Linked DNA regions of Homo sapiens. The protein of the gene in region 4 purifies or fractionates together with the protein of the main gene of each other region. This does not show direct contact. Each region holds a gene or a part of one and is shown on either strand. Other genes may lie near its edges.

Region 1 (3,500 bases), on a different chromosome or scaffold from region 4:
GATGTGGAGAACACTGCCCTCTAGGCTGTTTCAGCACTTTGAGACTCAGTGTTCACATATATAGTGAAGAGGTTGGTTTGTAGGTTCTCTAAGCTTTGTTACTCTTCCAGGATTCTATGATTTCTATTTACTTATTCTTCTTAGAGGTGTGTGCTTATACTCCACATGAATTTCAAATGTACAGAAGCCTGTACCATTTCAAAGATATACTGACCATCCTTGTGCTAGACACAGATATTAATTTTATTCAGTGACAAATGATACATATATTTGCATTGATATTTGCTTGGTGGGTTATTTATATGTGCATTTTTATAGTATATGAAAAATGGTAGCGTTTTGCCACCTCATAGAAGCTATCTGCTAATATTATTTATAATTTTTCAGTATTGTGTCCCTGTAGCAATCCATAGAGAGCAAATATTAAGTTAGTTGAGAAATGTAGATAAACTTTTCTATTTGGGATGTAAATAATGGTTTTCTTATTGATGCAGATTAATCACATCTAGACTTTTCTGTATGATCATATAGGAGAATGTATGTTAAGGTTAGCCTTTGTTTTCCAGCTTTTCTTTATTTTTGAATAAGAATAGGGTTTTGCAGTCATTTATGGGAAATTAATATGAACTATGGCAACACTTTTAAATTACATCTATATGCCATATATTACATCAATCTGATAATTTTATAATACTTGTGAAAAGGTGTTTTAAAATGAGAATGTTTTTCTCATCTTTACCCTTTAACTATTCTTAAATGAAAGTGGCACACATGATATTAGGGGAGATAAATATAGTAAAGATAATGTATGTGCATAGTGCAGATGTAGAATCTCATAGAGGTTTATACATGTTGCTAAAGTGCTCTTTTTCAGTAATGGGCTTATTATCATAGCCATATGTAGTCTATTTCAGAATTTAAATTATATATAAGTAACCTGAAATGTGTTTTTGAAGCTATGCAGTAATACCATGTTTGAATTGGCTTTGTTTGAATAACCTTTGATGCTACGCAACATGTGGACCATAAAAAAAAAGGATTTCTTAGAACATTAAGCAAAAATATTGTAAAAAAAAAAAGTAATGATTATATAAAAAGAGCAGTTCTGGCCATCTCATCCCTGAGCAGCTTGTATAAAATAGCATGTTTGACGATAAAAATATAGATATGTAAGCACATTGTATAAGTTGGGATACATACATAGCAATGAAGGGAGCTGATGTATGTGGGATGTGTGTGTGCCTAGTAATATCTGCTGAAATAGTTCCGGCAGTCTACAGGAGGTACATTTACTTCCCATGTGCAATTTGGTTTTCGAAGAGTATTAGAAAAAAAGATTATCATCTTATTTACTATTTCTCCTTTTTCTCCTTTTTTTCCTCCTTCTCCTCTCCTTCTCTTTCTTCTTCTCATTCATCGTCTCTTTCCTTTTCTTATTCTCCTCCTCTTTTTTTCTTTTTTGGATCTAATGAAAGGAATTAGAGAAACACTTGAAGAGTGAAGAAGATAGGTGAGGGTGTTTCTTGAATGATAATTTAGAAAATCTGCATTTAAAGGAAAAATGTGAATAATATTTTACCTTTAGGTATATCCAACTGGGATTTTGACTTTCTCACTTTTACCCCACAATACTATATATAGCTTTATGCAAAATGTTTTGCACGGATCCTATCATTTTCCAGTTTACACAAGTAAAAGTCGTCATATCTGAGTTCAAGCAAACAGTGGAGATTTATAGAGTGCCATTTTACAGATTTATTTCTAAAGAAAAGTATTGCTGTATTTCTTAAAGGTTCTCCAGGTATAGATCTATCAACCTAAATCAATACATTGGCATAGATATTGCTTTTCTCCTTCTTCTCTTCTTTTTTTTTCCATGTGTGCCTTTATTAGCTGAGCCACTACTTGAGGGTTTAAGGTCTTTGTGAGGGGCTTGGAACACCCAATGTTGGGGGAGGGAGGCGGGCGGTAGGGAAAGTATCTGAAAGGACTTCCTGAGCCAGCTGTAGGCTTTTCTTCTTCTTGTAAAAGAATTACTATATAAAGAATGAAGGAATGATTATAAACTCTTTTTAAAAATAAATACCTATCAACTCTACTGTTTTAGTAGTGTGTTATACAATGATAGAAGCATATAGCATCTAGGGTAGCATGCTTACCCAGAATACTTGACTCAACACAGTGTTGGAGTAACGGAGGCCTCAATCCTTAGTGTTTTCTCCTCCATTTGCAGCCAATCCTTAGGCTCTTTCATCTAATCACATGAGGTTTAAATACATGTTTGGATTGATAATTCTAAAATTGCCCTAATCATTGCATGGAGGGATATAAGATCCATCAGCACAGAACTTGGCTGTTGTATATACTGTTGATCTCCAGTGCTTGCATCAGTGCTTGACATACTCACCTGACTACTTGACGTCTTTGCTTCATGTCCAATGAGAATGTACAAAACTCAAGCCTAAGACAGAATCTTCTCTTTCTAGCCATTCCCATCACAGTAAATGGCTTCCACCATTCATAGGCTTTTTCATGACCCCCAATGAGGAACCATTTTTCACTTGTTCTCACAACTTGTATTCAACTTGTTCTCAGAATTGTGCAACCATCACTACAATCTAACTTTAAAATGTTCTTAATTACCCAAGAAAGAAACTATGTAGCTTGTTCCACCATCCCTCCACCAACCACAAGAAATCACCACTCTACTTCTGCCTCTGTGGATTTGTCTTTTCTGGACATTTTATATATAAATGCAATCATACAATATATGATGTCATTTTGTGACTAGCTTCTTTTCTTTAGCGTAATGTTTTTAAGGGTCATCCGTGTCATAGCATATGCATCAGTACATCATTCTTTTTTATTGCCAAACAATATTCCTTATCATCTATCCTTTGGTTTACTAGTTGATGAACATTTAAGTTATTTCCATTTTTGGCTATTATAGATATTGCTGCTTTGAACATCCACGTACTAACTTTTGTGTGAACATATGTCTTCATTTAACCTGGGATGGAAATGCTGGGTTGTATGTTTAGTCTGTGTTTCACATTTTGAGGAACTGCAAGACTATTTTCCAAAGCAGCTGTGCTACTTTACATTGCCATTAGCAATATATGAAGTAGATATTTTCTTTTAATTGATCATGGAAAGAAAGAGTCGAAGGGCCTTATGAGTTGGGTATGATGTTTTGAAGTGAAACAATTTTATATTATACTAATCTGTCTCAAATCCCCAATAGTCCTGATTTCTAATCCCTTCAGTGGTTGTTGTCTTCTAAGTCTTCCTCAGTTGCCTCGTAAAACTTTACAAAGATAGTACCTCAGTTGAACTTGTCACTTTTAGCAGAGATCTCAGCAATAGTAAATATAAATCATAGAATGATAGCATCTCGGAGCCATTATGAATATTTGCAGCTATATTGCACAACTCTCTTATTGGTTGGGCACATGGAGAACTGAAGCTTAGAGATTTTATGTGCCTTGTCACAGATCCCA
Region 2 (3,500 bases), 6.6 Mb from region 4:
ATTTTACCTGTATATGAAATTCTAGGTTCAAAATTATTTTCTTTCAGCACTTTGAAGCTATTACTGAATTGTACATCCAGTGTCGCTGTTAAGAAATGTGATGTTATTCCCATGCTTGAGTCTTTGTAGGTGATCTACTTGGCTTCCTGGAAACTTTAGCATTTCTTCTATATTTGATCTCCTAGGAATTCCCTCAAAATATCCTGTAATATTTCTTTTCCTTTTTTTTTGAGACTGTCTCACTCCATAGCTCATGCTGGAGTACAGTGGTGCAATGATGGTTCACTGTAGCCTCAAATTCCTGAGCTCAAGAAATAGTTATGTCTCCACCTCCCAAGTAACGGGGACTACAGGCACGTGCCACCACGCCTGGCAAACTTTTAAATTATTTGTAGAGACAGGGTCTTGCTGTATTTCCCAGGCTGGTCTCAAACTCCTGGGCTCAAGCGATCCTTCTGTCTTGGCCTCCCAAAGTGCTGGGATCACAGGTGTGAGCCACTGCACCCACGCAGCTGCTTGCTTGCTTGCTTTTTTTTTTGAGATGGAGTTTTGCTCTTGTTGCCCAGGCTGGAGTGCAATGGCACAATCTCAGCTCACCGCAACCTCCACCTACCAGGTTCAAGTGATTCTTCTGCCTCAGCCTCGCGAGTAGCGCTTGCCTCACCATGCCCAGCTACTTTTGTATTTTTAGTAGAGATGGGGTTTCTCCGTGTTGTCAGGCTGGTCTTGAACTCCTGACCTTAGGTGATCCGCCCGCCTTGGCCTCCCAAAGTGCTGGGATTACAGGCGTGAGCCACCACGCCTGGCCAACTGCTTTATTTCTTAACTTTTCTCTCATTCATTTCATTTCTTGTCTTTCCTGGTGCATTCTGAGTTTCTCAACGCAGTTTTTGCTCATTAATCTTTTATTTAGCTGTATGTATTTCAATTAACCTCATTCACTTAATTTTTATTTGAGCAATTGTATTTTTCATAACAAATTGCCTCAATTGGTTCTTCCTCAAAACGACTTTTTTTTTTTTTGAGACAGAGTCTCGCTGTGTCACCCAGGCTGGAGTGCAGTGGCATGATCTCATCTCACTGCAGCCTCCACTTTGCAGGTTCAAATGATTCTACTGCCTCAGCCTCCTGAGTAGCTGGGATTACAGGCATGTGCCACCATGCCCAGCTAATTTTTTTCTATTTTTAGTAGAGACAGGTTTCACCATATTGGCTAGGCTGGTCTCGAACTCCTGACCTCAAGTGATCTGCCTACCTTGGCCTCCCAAAAAGTGCTGTGATTACAGGCTGTGAGTCACTGCCCCTGGCTAAAACAACTTTTCAATATTATCCTTATCTTTCTGAGCAAATCCATGTTTAATTTCAGTTATTCTGCTCCTTCTGGTACAGACTGTTCTGTTTATCAGGGTGCCTGTGTTCCTCCAATCTCTGGTGAGTTTTATGCGTGCACTCACCTTTTATTCCCTTGGGACTCTCAATTGCATTGGCTGGTAATGTGTAACTACGAGGAGGACGGAAGCCTGATCCGTAGTTTTTCTTTCTTTTTTTTTTTTTTTTTTGAGATGGAGTCTCGCTCTGTCACCCAGGCTCGAGTGCAGTGGCACGATCTTGGCTCACTGCAAGCTCTGCCTCCTGGGTTCACGCCATTCTCCTGCCTCAGCCTCCCAAGTAGCTGGGACTACAGGCACCCGCCACCACGCTCAGCTAATTTTTTTGTATTTTTAGTGGAGGCGGGTGAAAACCGTGTTAGCCAGGATGGTCTCAATCTCCTGACCTCGTGATCGGCCCACCTCGGCCTCCCACAGTGCTGGGATTACAGGCGTGAGCCACCGCGCCCGGCCAGTTTTCCTTTCTGTAAATGAATTTAGGAGGTTGAGGTTAGCCTCAGGGTTCAGCCTCTCCCTTTTGCTCTCTGCTGTCCTCTCTGGCTCCAGGGAACCTCCTAGCACCAACTGTATGGACTCTGCCTTTATCTGAGAGCAGCCATCCCAAGAAGTTCTAGGATGCCAAACTCATGGAGTTGATGGGGCGTGGTTCTGGAGCAACTGTTTATTCCCCCATCCAGCCTGGCTCTGGCCATTACCCACAGGGGTCAAAGGTCAAGCAGTTAAATCTCTTGGGCATTGTGTATAGACAGGAGTAGATGCTGCTAGAAAACCCCCTTTCCTTGGCCGAGTGCGATGGCTCACGCCTGTAATCCCAGCACTTTGGGAGGCTGAGGCGGGCGGATTGAGACCATCCTGGAGCCAGGAGATCGAGACCATCCTGGCTAACATGGTGAAACCCCATCTCTACTAAAAAATACAAAAAATTAGCTGGGCATGGTAGTGGGCGCCTGTAGTCCCAGCTACTCGGGAGGCTGAGGCAAGAGAATGGCGTGAACCTGGGAGGTGGAGCTTGCAGTGAGCCGAGATTGTGCCATGGCACTCCAGCCTGGGTGACAGAGCAAGACTCTGTCTCAAAAAACAAACAAAAAATTGAGTTATTAACAAAAATTACGTTACTAATATAATGCATCTACCGGAAATGTATAAAAAGTGTGAACTGGTAAATTTGAGGCTACTCAGATTTAAACTTTTGGCTTTTGGGATGCTCTCATTTTCATATGCTTGGATTTACTCTGGGCTTTTTTTTTTTTGAGTTAGGGTCTAACTGTGTTGCCCAGGTTGGAGTGCACAGTCATAGCTCACTGCAGCCTCAAACTTTCAGGCTCAAGCGATCCTCCCACCTCAGCCTTCTCAGTAGCTGGGACCACCAGCCTATGCCACCATACATGGCTCATTTTTTATTTTTTTGTAGAGATGGGGTCTTACTATGTTGCCCAGGCTGGTCTCAAACTCCTGGGCTCAAGGGATCCTCCCACCTCCGCCTCCTCAAGTGCTGGGATTACAGGCATGAGCCACTGTGCCTGGCCCTTGGGCTTTCTTGTTGCAAGCTGGTGCTTACCTGCCCACTGTGGTTGCCCTGCACTTATAACCTACATCTTTCTTGAAACAAATGTTATAGGTAAAAATAAACATGGGGTGATCATTTTGTTTTTTGGGTTTTTTTGTTTGTTTCTTTTTGAGATGGAGTTTCGCTCTTTCGCCCAGGCTGTTATGAAGTGGCAGAATCTTGGCTCACTGCAACTTCCACCCCCCAGGTTCAAGCGATTCTCCTGTCTCAGCCTCCAGAGTAGCTGGGATTACAGGCACATGCCACCATGCCAGGCTCATTTTTGTATTTTTATTTATTTATTTATTTATTTATTTTATTTTTTGTTTTATTTTATGTTTTTTTAGATGGAGTCTCGCACTGTAGCCCAGGCTGGAGTGCAGTAGTGCCATCTTGGTTCACTGCAACCTCCACCTCAAGCAATTCTCCTGCCTCAGCCTCCCAAGTAGCTGGGATTACAGGCACATGCCACCACACTCGGCTGATTTTTGTATTTTTAGTAGAGATAGGGTTTCACAATGTTGGCCAGGCTGATCTTGAACTCCTGACCTCAGGTGATCCATGCG
Region 3 (3,500 bases), on a different chromosome or scaffold from region 4:
CACATGGGATAAAACCTAACTAACGTTAAGGGCTGTGAGTTGAGTACTTCCCCTTTTGGAAGGGACTGTGGACTGGTGGGTTTGATGAAACATCTTATACAAGTCATTATAATGACCATTTTACAGATAAGTCAGACAGACTGTAGAAAAGGTCAGAAACCTTTCGACCAAAGCCATAGGGTTAGTGCAGAGCGGAACATCTCTGAAGTCAAAGCCCAGACTGCTTTGTTTATGAAAAGTTGTAACTTGGCTCTATAATTCAGTAATTTAAATATATATCAGAAAAGAGTTGGTGTATTTTCTTAGCTCTACTTAGTGCATTTTAAAAACCAGTTTAAGAGTTTAGTTTCCACTTTACTTAAAATTTAAGTAGTTAAAACTACTTCCAGTAGGGGTAATTGGTTATACTATAAAGTTCTTTGCATATTTCTAATTTTAAAATTTGTATCACAATATTATTAAAAGCAGTATTTAGAAATAATCGTACTATTTAAAGTTTTCATGCATTAATGATAAAACTATTTTGTCATTTATGATGTGTTTTGTTTCAGGTTAATATCTTTAGTCTCAGCTGTCAACCACTCTTTCTACTAACTAGATGTTACATGCTGAGAAATGTTATTACCATCTCAACTTTCCAGAAAGCAGAAAATCTTTTTCTGGCTGTGTGCAGACACTAGGAATACAACTTTTCTTTTTCTTAAAGTTTGATTATAAAGTCCCCCAGAAGATGACCTTTTAATATTCCTGAGTGCATGACCTGTAAGGTCCCCATTCTGGTTCTTACAAGGTCTTGGTAATTCATTAAGGTAAAATTATTTCAACAAGAACCTCAGTGCTCTTATAGCTGTTTTACTTCTGAGCTTTTATTTGAAGTACACGCTAAACCATGAAGTAAAAGTATGGCGTGTTACTCCAAGCACAATGCAAGTAGTCCTTAAAATATTCCTATCTCCCTTGAATATACCTCTAATCTACAAGCAGCCACCCTGGGACAATCCCTGTGTGTCTTTTATGCAAAGACAATAAAGCATTCAACAGGGAAGGGACATGAGACAGGACCCAAACAAATAGAGTATATGCCACATAGGGTTCCTAAAAGCAACGTTTGTCTTCTGGAGGCAATTAGTAATGGCATCATGCTGAAGGCAAATGCCTGTTGCACAGGCACATACAGGTGGTGTTGAGTATACAGCTTTGTTTCTCAAAGTAGAATACTTGGGCTGCTAGTTAAAATGTATATTCCTCCTGGGCTCTCTCTCAGATTAGTCAATCAAAATTTATGGAGTAGGGCCTAAGGATTGAATTTTTAATGAGCTTCCCAGGTGACGTGCACTGAAGATGCTCACCAGCGTATACAAAGAGGATGGAATGACATAAGTAAAGGTGTAGGAGTAGGCAGTACACCCATTCAACCAACCATATTTATAAAGCATCTTATTAATGTTCTAAATGCTGTGAGTGTGGCTGATTTTTTTTCCCACAAGAAGATAAGTTTAACAGCTGACAGAAGTTTCAGTAGCATTAAATCTCTTCATGCTATGGTGGAAAAAAGAAATAACAGACATTTCCCAAAGTAACTTGCAGGATACTTGGTGTGTATTTTCAGCTCTCCTTGAGGAGGCGGCAGATGCTTCTGTTAGAAACCCTGAAGGTGAAACAGACCATTCTGGAGCCAATCCCTACTTCACTGAAGTTGCCCATTGCTGTCAGTTGCTACTGGTTGCAGCACACCGAGACCAAAGCAAAGCTACATCATCTACAATCCTTACTGCTCACAATGCTAGTGGGGCCCTTGATTGCCATAATCAACAGCCCTGGTAGGTAACTGGAAATTACAGGAGTATATTGTGGCATGTTGCTTGCAAACTGTTTACTCGAGTTTACACAAACAAAAAAGTATTCTTGGATTATTTACTCCCATTAATTGTATCACAACTTAGATGTGGAGGCACCAAAATATCATTCATTCATTGGTAAATATTTTTTAACACTTCATGTGCCAGGCTCAGTGCTGGAGGGCTTGAATCTTAAGTATACAGCAGTGAGATGTGTTGGGGTACTGCCAACTTCCATCTGTTTGGTGGCACCTACTCCTTTAACTTGTGAATTGTGACAGTGTATTTTGCCAGCTGCATTTTGTATTCCATGTTACCTATCCAGTTATTAGCACAGCAGCAACGTCATCACAAGAAACTTGCCCAGAAGTGAAACTTATCTAAATACCTACAACCACTACATTCTTGCTTATACATCTTTTTATTCCTTTTTCTCTGCTGTAGGTTTCAATTAGTATGTAAGTAGTGATGGCAGAAATAGTAATTTGTCCTTTTTTTTTTTTTTTTTTTTTTTTTTTGAGATGGAGTCTCACTCTGTTGCCTAGGCTGGAGTGCAGTGGTGCAATCTTGGCTCACTGCAGCCTCTGCCACCTGGGTTCCAGTGATTCTTCTGCCTCAGCCTTCCGAGTAGCTGGGATTACAGGTGCCTGTCACCGCGCCCAGCTAATTTTTGTATTTTTAGTAGAGACGGGTTTTCACCATCTTGGCCAGGCTGGTCTTGAACTCCTGACCTTGTGATCCACCCGCCTCAGCCTCCCAAAGTGCTGGGATTACAAGCATGAGCCACCGCGCCCGGCCAGTAATATCTCTTAAATACACTGAGGCAAGTTCATCTGCATATAATACCAGGTGAAGTAAATGCTGAAACACTGGGACACTTTAATACTTCAGTGGAATATCCTCTTTAAAGATTATGAATGCTCTAACACTGTATAAACATGCATAATAATTATACTCTGGAATAGTACTATCTAATATGGTGGCTACTAGCCACACATGGCCAAAGTTAAATTCCATTTAAATTAAAAATTCAGCTTTTCAGTCACACTAGCCACACTTCAAGTGTCAGGTAGTTACATATGGCTATAGGCTAGCCTACTGTATTGGACAGCACTGCAGAAAGTTCTATTAGATCGTGCTACTCTAGTTTACTATTTTAATAAGTTAGATAAAAGAATGAAACAGCATGGATTCCTGTTTCTAAAGTATTAAGGCTCAAGCTTGACAGCTGTCAGAGGGACTGTTGTTATATGACAGCCAACTTAACACAAAACAAATCAGTTAAGTCCCACTGCTGCTTTATGAACACAGGTTTAGAGTATTTCCTCTGATTGAATAATAAATACAGTATAAGAAAGCTCTCAGAGCACAAGCCTATTAAGTTTTTACCTGAGTCCAAGAGAAGGGGCATGTCAAGGGTCTGTTTCTTTTCTTTTAGGAAATGTGGACCCTGTACCCAGGCAGGCTCAGTGTCTTGCTCCTCGCTAGTTGGTAAAAGGTGGGCCTCCTTTTTATTATTTTCAAATTGGTCCAGATGTTATTTTGTGCACCCCTGCCCAAACAAATCTGTAGAAACTTACAGCTAAAAACACACAACATTCCTTATTTCCTAGGATTGTTGCTTCTTGCCCCTTATCCTCTACTATGAAAAGAAAATGATTA
Region 4 (3,500 bases):
GCACGTTCATCAGGTGCCGGGTACACTTACACAGTGACGGGGAACACCCCAGGGCTGGCCGTGAGGGTCATGCAGGCTGTGAATACCACCTGCTCACAGTGACCGTGGAGGGCGCAGTCATCTGAGCTCCACGCTGTAGGCAGGGTGAAGGTGATGTTTATCTCCTCGTGGGCTTCCCTGCCTATGAAAGAGAAATCATTTTTTTATAAAGTCAAGAACCACGTACTTGTCATTCTCTGGGATACAAATAAATCCTGAAATCAAACCCACACAGGAATCATCTATCAGCCCAGGCACCTGCCTTTGTGGGATCTGAGGAAGAAGAGCAGTCCTGACCCTGACCATGAGTCCTACTCAACTCAGAGCCACGAAGCAGCGAAGGAAGTGGCCACTTTCCAGTACATGGCCTGGAGATGCCAAACCAGACCTCGGGCAGATCAGAGATGAAAAGCTCGGGCTGGGTGAATTATCCCCAGCATTTCTGCACAGCTGTCTAGCCATTTTCAAACATCTTTTATATGTATTATTTCACTTAAAATTTACTACTCTCCCATGAACATGACTGAAGAAGTGCAGCTGTTCCCCTTTTACATATGAACAAACAGAGGTCAGAGGGTTTCAGAGTTAAGAAAGGCAAGTGATGAAGCTTAAACTAAAACCAACGTATTGCCAGGCACAGTGGTTCACATCTGTAGTCCCAGCACTTTGACTTTAGAAGGCTGAGGCAGGAGGATTGCTTGAGGCCGGGAATTCACGACCAGCCTGAACATGACAGCAAGATTCTGTCTCTACAAAAAAGTTTTAAAAATCAGCCAGGTGTACTGGTGCACACCTGTGGTCCCAGGTACTAGGGAGGATCACTTGAGCCCAGGAGTTTGAGGCTGCAGTGAGCTATGATCACACCACTGCACTCTAGCCTGGCGACAGATCAAGACCCAGTCTCAAAATTAAAATAAAATTTTAAATAAAAATTAAATTAAAATAAAAAATTAAAATATTAAAATAAAATTAAAATTAAAAAATAGCCAAGCGTGGTGGCTCATGCCTGTAATCCCAGCACTTTGGGAGGCTGAGGCGGGCGGATCATTTGAAGTCAGAAGTTCAAGACCAGCCTGGCCAACATGGTAAAATCCTGTCTCCACTAAAAATACAAAATTAGCTGGGCATGGTGTCACGAACCTATAATCCCAGCTACGCGGGAGTCTGAGGCAGAACAGTCGCTTGAACCCGGGAGACAGAGGTTGCAGTGAGCCAAGATTGTGCCACTGCACTCCAACCTGGGCGACAGAGTGAGACTCCATCTCAAAATAACAACAAAAAATCCCGAAGGTGTCCTTATGCCATGCCATAAGCAACAGGTCCACTTGCTACATGGAAAACCCAGAAGTCACCCATACCTTGATTATTATGGGAATATTCTCACCTCTAACAGCCAATAGGAGGCTGGTGGGCACTTAAATTCCTTGAAGGACTTTTTATTTGTTTCTTGTTTTTTTTTTTTTTTTTTTTTGAGACAGGGTCTCACTCTATTGCCCAGGCTGGAGTACAGTGGTACAATCTTAGCTCACTGTAGCCTCGACCTCCCAGGTTCAAGCAATCCTCCCACCTCAGCCTCACAAGTAGCTGGGACTACAGGTGCACGCCACAACACCTGGTTAATTTTTTTAATTTTTTCATAAAGACAGGTGTTTGCTATGTGCCCAGGCTGGGCTTCAACACCTGAGCTCAAGCAATCTTCCTGCCTCAGCCTCTCAATGTGCTGGGATTACAGGCATGAGCCACTGCATCTAGCCTAAGCAATTTTTAAAAAGCCTTTTGGTAACCAAAGAACAAAAGGTTATTCTTCCAAGGCCCAGGTGTCCCATATGAAGCCTTTCCTGATTATTCCAGCTTCCACTGCCTTCTAGCCCTTCTCCTGCAACACTTACAGTCTGTCATGGGTTTAGTACTGGTCAAAGGGCAGTGCTCCACATTTTATAAGTATGTATTTTTTCATATCCCTTATCAAGCACTTACGTAGCATTTCCTTTGTGGCAGGAACTATTGTAAGTGCTTGATAAACATTAACTCACGTTTATCTTTGTCTCTTCCATAACCCCAAAATTCCAAAAGGAAGAGACCAAATGTTAGGCCTTTTTTTTTTTTGAGGTGAAGTCTCACTCTGTTGCCTAGACTGGAGTGCAGTGGCATGATCTTGGCTCACTGCAGCCTCCGCCTCCAGGGTTCAAGTGATTCTCCCACCTCAGCCTCCAGAGTGGCTGGGATCACGGGCGCCTGCCACCACGCCTGGCTAATTTTTTTGCATTTTTAGTAGAGATGGGGTTTCACCATGTTGGCCAGACTGGTCTTGAACTCCTGACCTCAAGTGATCCACCCACCTCGGCCTCCCAAAGTGCTGGGATTACAGGCGTGAGCCACTGCGCACGGGCCCATCTTAGGCATTGTCTTTTCTTTTCTTTTTTTGAGATGGAGTCTCGCTCTGTCGCCCAGGCTGGAGTGCAGTGGTGCAATCTCGGCTCACCGCAACCTCCACGTCTTGGGTTCAAACAATTCTCCTGCCTCAGCCTCCTGAGTAGCTGGGACTACAAGTGCGCACCACCATGCCTGCATGCCCAGCTGACTTCTTTTTTTTTTTTTTTGGAGAGAGAGTCTCCCTCTGTCGCCCAGGCTGGAGCACAGTGGCATGAATCTCAGCTCACTGCAACCTCTGCCTCCTGGGTTCAAGCTATTCTCCTGCCTCAGCCACCCGAGTAGCTGGGACTACAGGTGCCTGCCACCACGCCCGGCTAATTTTTGTATTTTTAGTAGAGACGGGGTTTTGCCATATTGGCCAGGCTGGTCTCAAACTCTTGACCTTGTGATCTGCCCACCTTGGCCTCCCAAAGTGCTCGGATTACAGGCGTGAGCCACCGCGCCCGGCCAATTTTTTGTATTTTAGTAGTGATGGGGTTTCACCATGTTGCCCACGCTGGTCTCAAACTCCCGAGCTCAGGCAATCCACCCACCTCGGCCTCCCAAAGTGCTGGGATTACATGCATGAGCTACTGCACCCAGCCATCTTAGTCATTTTCTAGTTCTTCCCAGCAGCTTAGCACAGTGCCAGACTAACAATGGCCATTAAAAAATATGTAAACTAATAGCAATAGAAGATGTGTAGTAAGTAATGAAAACTCCAACAGGACAAGCCTGAATTAAAATTACATGTTTGTAAATATTAGACAGGCCTTAACAGTTTTCTCACAGTTTCTCATTCCTACAGGCTTTTGAGAAACTACTTCTAGCCAGGTACTTTACCATGTAACGATGGAACAGAAATGGTTCATGTAGTTCAAACTCAACAAAAAAAAGACACGCGCAAGACTACAATCTAGTACAATATAGTCAGTAAAAACATACACGGTGCATCCTCTTTTTGTAACAGTGGTTGCCTAAGGAGCCTGAGTGGAGAGTGGCTACTGCATACCTGAAAGTCCAATCTGATGCCCTAAGATGGTTGAGTA

What was found.
Region 1: the proteins of TMEM248 (region 4) and ROBO2 purify together in Homo sapiens (affinity purification with mass spectrometry; one large-scale study listed by BioGRID and IntAct). This does not show direct contact.
Region 2: the proteins of TMEM248 (region 4) and BCL7B purify together in Homo sapiens (affinity purification with mass spectrometry; one large-scale study listed by BioGRID and IntAct). This does not show direct contact.
Region 3: the proteins of TMEM248 (region 4) and ASTE1 purify together in Homo sapiens (affinity purification with mass spectrometry; one large-scale study listed by BioGRID and IntAct). This does not show direct contact.

Annotation. Positions count from the first base shown.
Region 1 is NC_000003.12:77,043,099-77,046,598, forward strand, and holds part of ROBO2 (roundabout homolog 2 isoform 23 precursor), read left to right. Parts: intron 1-3,500. UniProt on the Homo sapiens protein: Receptor for SLIT2, and probably SLIT1, which are thought to act as molecular guidance cue in cellular migration, including axonal navigation at the ventral midline of the neural tube and projection of axons to different regions during neuronal development.
Region 2 is NC_000007.14:73,544,191-73,547,690, reverse strand, and holds part of BCL7B (B-cell CLL/lymphoma 7 protein family member B), read left to right. Parts: intron 1-3,500. UniProt on the Homo sapiens protein: Positive regulator of apoptosis. Plays a role in the Wnt signaling pathway, negatively regulating the expression of Wnt signaling components CTNNB1 and HMGA1.
Region 3 is NC_000003.12:131,016,826-131,020,325, reverse strand, and holds part of ASTE1 (single-strand DNA endonuclease ASTE1), read left to right. Parts: intron 1-1,609; coding exon 1,610-1,820; intron 1,821-3,276; coding exon of another isoform or gene 3,277-3,326; exon of another isoform or gene 3,327-3,336; intron 3,337-3,500. UniProt on the Homo sapiens protein: Structure-specific DNA endonuclease that specifically cleaves single-stranded DNA and 3' overhang DNA.
Region 4 is NC_000007.14:66,945,225-66,948,724, reverse strand, and holds part of TMEM248 (transmembrane protein 248), read right to left. Parts: coding exon 3,464-3,500; intron 182-3,463; coding exon 31-181; intron 1-30.